Regions from separate parts of the Homo sapiens genome. Here region 2 is linked to region 1. The links come from fine-mapping of genetic effects on gene expression. Tissue or cell type: visceral fat. Region 1 holds a variant in brackets; the other region holds the start of a gene. All regions are shown on one strand. Distances are from middle to middle.

Evidence for each region. PIP is the estimated chance that this variant, and not a neighbour inherited with it, causes the effect. A credible set is the group of variants that fine-mapping cannot tell apart.
Region 2: it holds the start of EPN2, and the variant in region 1 is the best candidate, but not a certain one, in a credible set for the expression of EPN2 in visceral fat (GTEx, PIP 0.53).

What each region holds. Positions count from the first base shown.
Region 1 is chr17:19,291,749-19,294,430 of GRCh38, reverse strand. The region is part of intron 4 of EPN2 (epsin 2); the gene reads right to left. Among named protein-coding and RNA genes, the nearest start is that of EPN2-AS1, 13 kb to the left of the region's middle. The variant G/A (reference allele first, on the strand shown) is at 1,304.
Region 2 is chr17:19,236,240-19,238,921 of GRCh38, reverse strand. EPN2 (epsin 2) reads right to left here and starts at 1,556. Exons shown (of 11, transcript NM_014964.5): 1 at 1,391-1,556. RefSeq lists a silencer at 1,179-1,648.

The DNA of each region.
Region 1 (2,682 bases):
TTTTTTCTTTTGAGAAAGGGTCTCGCTTTGTCACCCAGGCTAGAATGCAGTGGCACAATCTTGGTTCACTGCAGCCTGGACTTCCTGAGCTCAGGCGATTCCTCCCACCTCAGCCCCACAAAGTAGCTGGGACTACAGGTGCACACCACCATGCCTGGTTAATTTTTTTTTTTTTTGTAGCGATGGGGTTTTGTTGTGTTGTCCAGGCTGGTCTCAAACTCCTAAGCTCAAGCAATTCACCTGCTTCAGCCTCTCGAAGTGCTAGGATTACAGGCATGGGCCACTGCAGCCGGCCTCCCAATCAGCAATTTTGATAGCACTGTTTCTTTTTTTTTTTTTTAAAGACAGAGTCTTGCTCTGTTGCCCAGGCTGGAGTACAGTGGTGCGATCTCAGCTCACTGCAACCTCTGCCTCCCAAGCTTCAAGCAATCTCCTGCCTCAGCTTCCTGGGTAGCTGGGATTACAAGCATCCACCACCACACCCGACTAATTTTTTGTATTTTTGGTAGAGACAGGGGTTTCACCATGTTGGTCAGGCTGGTCTCAAACTCCTGACCTCAAGTGATCCACCAGCCTCGGCCTCCCAAAGTGCTGGGATTATAGGCATGAGCCACCGCGCCCAGCCTTGATAGCACTGTTTCAATTCTGAGAACAATCCCATATTCTGACAATCAGAGGAGCTCCTTAAGATCTGGGGCCCAATTAAATAATGGTTTAATTAGGTATTCCTGGCTGAGTGTGGTGGCTTGTGCCTGCATGCCTGTAATCTCAACACTTTGAGAGGCCGAGGCCAGAGGATAGCTTGAGCCCAGGAGTTCCAGATCAGCCTGGGCAACGTGGCAAAACCCCACCTCTACAAAATACAGAAAGTAAAAAAAAAAAAAAAAAAAAAAAAAGCTGGGTATGGTGGCATGCACCTGTAGTCTCAGCAACCCAGGAGGTTAAGGTGAGAGCATCACTTGAGCCCAGGGAGGTAGAGGCTGCAGTGAGCCACAATCACACCACTGCACTCCAGCCTGAGCAACAGAGCAAGACCCTGTCTTTTTTTTTTTTTTTTTTTGAGATGGAGTTTCGCTCTTGTCACCCAGGCTGGAGTGATCTCGGCTCACTGCAACCTCTGCCTCTCAGGTTCAAGCGAATCTCCCACCTCTGCCTCCTGAGTAGCTGGGATTACAGGTGCCCACCACCATGACCGGCTAATTTTTTTGTATTTTTAGTAGAGATGGGTTTCACCATATTGGCCAAGCTGGCCTCGAACTCCTGGCCTCAGGTGATCTGCCCGTCTCAACCTCCCAACATGCTG[G/A]GATTACAGGCGTGAGCCACCCTGCCCAGCCAATCCCATCTTAAAAAGAAAAAAATAATAATACAGAAAAAAGCATTATATAAGATGAACCATATAATTTTAAAATTGTAATAGGTGTACACCGTATTTGCCTATTTTGCAGAAAAAATTTTAAAGCAATTTCAAAAACTGTCAAGTAGAGGAAAGAGAACCAGAGTTCTTCAAAATCCCAGTTCTAATTCTAGCTTCTTCACTTACAAATGAGAGGATTTAGGGGAGCAAGTTCATGTCAGTTTCCTTATTAACCTCATCTGCCCTGCCTACCTTCTAGACAACTGTGAGAAGCAAATGGACTCCTCCTAAGAGAAGGCAAAGGCCCAGGAGAGGTGATCCAGATGCCTTCTGGTTGTGTTGGGCAACTGTCTGACTTTAGCAGCCCAGCCATTCACGAATCACATTCAAATCCCACTTAAAACCCAAGCCCTTGTGGCAAGAACGAGCATCTTTTATACCTGATACTTGGATAGATGTGTCAATAAATCTGCTGCCTCTGAGGGTGTGTTCATGTTACTGATCAGCTTCCTCCATGACTCAATTTTCCACCTGAAGAGATTAACTCTCTCTAGAGTAAGCTAACGCTGACAGCCCTGCTGTGCCTCTGCCCCTGGGACTGACTGCCAGCCGAAGATGCAGGGCTCCCCTGACTTACAGAACACATTTGTTCCACCAAAACAAGATGCCAAATGAGTCTCATCTCCCACCAAATTCCTGGTCCATCCCCAAAACCCAATGGAAGGGCCCTGAGGGCTAGACACACTCCCCACAGGTAGCTATCCCTGGCCTGACACTAGGAAATACCTGGCTGGTGGCCACCAACCACCTCTCAGCCCCGGGCGGGCCCTGCTGCCCTCCTAGTTCCTGGCAGCATCACTCAGCCCTGCACCTTGGAGCTCTGTCACCTCCCACACTCTCAGGAGACCTCAGCTGGCCCAGGATCCTTCCAAGGTCCACCTCAGAAGCACTTCTGACACGCTGGCTGGGTTTGGCTTTTCTTTTTTTTAACAATATATTTTCCCACATCTTTGAGTTTTCAAAAGTAGACCCATGTAGGACTCCCTTTTCAGATGCCTCCTTCTTACCAAAACACTCTCCTTTGTGTGTACATGTCTGGTGTAAGTGCACATGTGTCTGTGTGTGCGCATGCTTCAGCTCTATTCCCAGAGCTGGGCAAGCAGGGCTGAGGCCATGACAACTCTGGTTCACCCCTGAGGTTCCCTTGTTATGAAGACAGCTTCCGTAGAGAGTCCTCTGAGGGCCCACTGTGCCTGGGGACTTCCTGGACATACTCATGAAACAGCGCACAAGAAAGCTTTCAAATTCTACCAAGTCCCCATTGGGTT
Region 2 (2,682 bases), 56 kb after region 1:
AAATCTTCGTTATATTACATAATGAGAGGAAGCTTGGATTCTTAAAATTCACCTTTTCCCATCATTTTAACACCCTGTTCCAATCCCTTCTTTCACAGGATATTTTCTGGAGGTGAAAAGGAATAACTCATTACTTCTCATATTTTCCTGCCCACTTTCTTGCATAAATATTAAAAATAAAGGGGAAGGTAGGGTCCTGAACATCTCCCTAAAAGATAAAAAAGTTATTAAATGTGGTAAACAGAGCCTGGAGACCTAGCTTCTAGTTCTGCACTGACACAGTATCACTGCGTGACCTTGGGCAAATTACTGCAGTTCTGGGCCTCAGTTTCCCTCATCTGAACCCTAATGATGGTTAAGCCCTCTCCGCTCTTAAAGCACAGATTTTAGATACGTCCCCAGGGAAGCACAACTGTGAAGGAGTCGCCCAGACGGACTCCTTGGGCGGAGAAACGGCCTTCCACAAGCTCCGGCGGGGGGATTCACAGGGAGCTCAAGCTGCCCCAGGGAAAGCCACTGGGCAAACTTCAGGTCGCAAACAAAAACCTGTTGGCACCGACTCCTCTAGCAAAGGCCAGCCTCCCAACGCGCTCGGCTCTCGGCTCTAGGGGAGCCGCCCCACAGGGAGAGAGAGGAAGTCTCTCCTGGAAGAGGCCAGACCCCACGCACCCATTCACCCACCCGGATCAGCCGAGCAGGACCGCCGGGCCGGGTGGGTCTCTGCCATCCCACGCGGAACAAAAGGCAGCTGGAGCCTGGCTCTTCCGCCCCCGTCCCCGCTGTTCCGTGGGAGTGGGGGCTGGGGAGTGGGGAGCCTGGTCCCCAAGGACGGAAGGGGGCCCTGCTACAGCCCCCAGGAAAGGTGAGACGGGCGGGATCCCGGACAGAGATAAGGACCCCTCCCCCGATTCCCGGAGGGCGCCCGGACCGGGCTCTGCACGGGGGCTGGCGGGAGACCAGGCTGGGCTCAGGAGGAAGGGGCGCCGGGCTCGGGGAGAGGAGGAACGTGCTCTGGGGAGGGGGCGGGGTTGTTCCAAGATGAACGGGGCTCCAGGATCCGAGGTAGGAGTAAGGGGCGCCCTGGACTCTGGGGACATAAAAGGAGATGCTCGGTGATAGGGACGGGTAAGGGGGGAGATCCTTGCAGCGGAAAGCTGGATCCAGATGGGAAGGGGGCCATGCTCCAGTCCGTGGGGCGGGGCCTGGTTGGAAAGAAGGGGATCCCCCAGAGCCTGGCGTAGGGACCAGCGGGGCGGCAGGGGCGCATGCCCTGGCGGGGCTGGTGAGGTAGGGGAGCCTGTGCTCTGGGGGCGTCCGCGCCCTGGAGAGGGGGAGGGTCCTCGCCCCGGGGACTCGCTCTGGCCTTGGAGCCCCACGGGCTGTGGCTCACCTCTGCTCCTCCGGGCCGGCGTGGGTGCGCCGCTGCGGCCACCGGCAGCGCTCGAGAGGCGGGAGCGACCGTAGCCCGCGGAGCCGCCGCCACCGCCGCGTCTGGCTCAGTTTGACACCCACACACCAGCCAACATGGCGGCCGGGAGGGGGCGCGCCGGACGCGTGCGCGCGCCCTCAGGCCCCGCCCCCGAGGCCCCGAGGTCCCGCCCCCACGCCCGCAGACCACGCCCCTGCGACCCCGCCAGAGCCCCTCCCTAGTGGCCCCTGCGCGGCTTCCCCTCCGCCTCCTGCGCTCCAGGACCCCACGCGGACGACCCACCCTTCCGCAGCGCCCCACAGTCGACGCCCGAGCCCCCAAAAAACCCCCAATCCCGAGCGCCACACAAACCCTGGCAAATTAATACCCGAACGCGCGCACTCTAATCCCCTTCAGGCCACTCCACCCCGTACACACTCACGGCCCCCCCACACTCACGGCCGGGCAGCACGCGCAGACCCCGCCCCGTCAAGCAGAAACTCACGCTCCGGCCTGCCGGTTTCACTCAAAAACCTTGTTCAGTAGGAGAGACTGGAAGGGGGCCAGGGCCTGCCGGGCGCTGGTAGGGTTGGGTTCTTAGGCTACAAGTGTGTTCACTTTATGAAGATGCGCGGAAGTACACTTTGGATTTGTGCGCTTTTCCGTGCGTGTATTTCACGTCAATAAAATATACTCAAAAACGGAGAAGTCTCTAGGCTTCTTTAGGCTGCTCAAGGGGTTACCTAAGGGCACGAATGGCAAGGGGTTACCTACATGGCACGAAAACGGAAACCCTTGACTGGCGGGCACCCACAAAGCACCTCCTCTGTGCCAAGCCCTGTGCTGGGCACAGAAATGAGACAGCCCCAAATGCCTCGAATGAGAGTCCCGGAACTGGAGGGGCCAGAACTGGAGGCTGCACCTCAAAGCTGACTAACCTGCTCCAATCAGGGTGGGAGTCAGCAGAGACTTCTCACAGCAGGGGCGCGGAGCATGAGTCAGGGCTTGCTAGGTGGGCAGAGGGCACCATCCCTGTTGCCTGGGTGACATCAACACTCTGCCTAGCCTTGGCTTCAGGGAAGCTGTGGCCAGAAGTCTTCCTCTGCCCTAACTCACTGAGGGACCTTAAACAAGTCACTGTACTTCTCTGAGCCTCAGATTCCTCCTCCCTGTACAGGAACCAGGGGATGAAAGTATCCCTTAAGGTTCTAACAACCCAGGATCTGGAATTCCATTCTCTGGCAAAAAAAAAAAAGGTTGTATCTTTCCAGGAA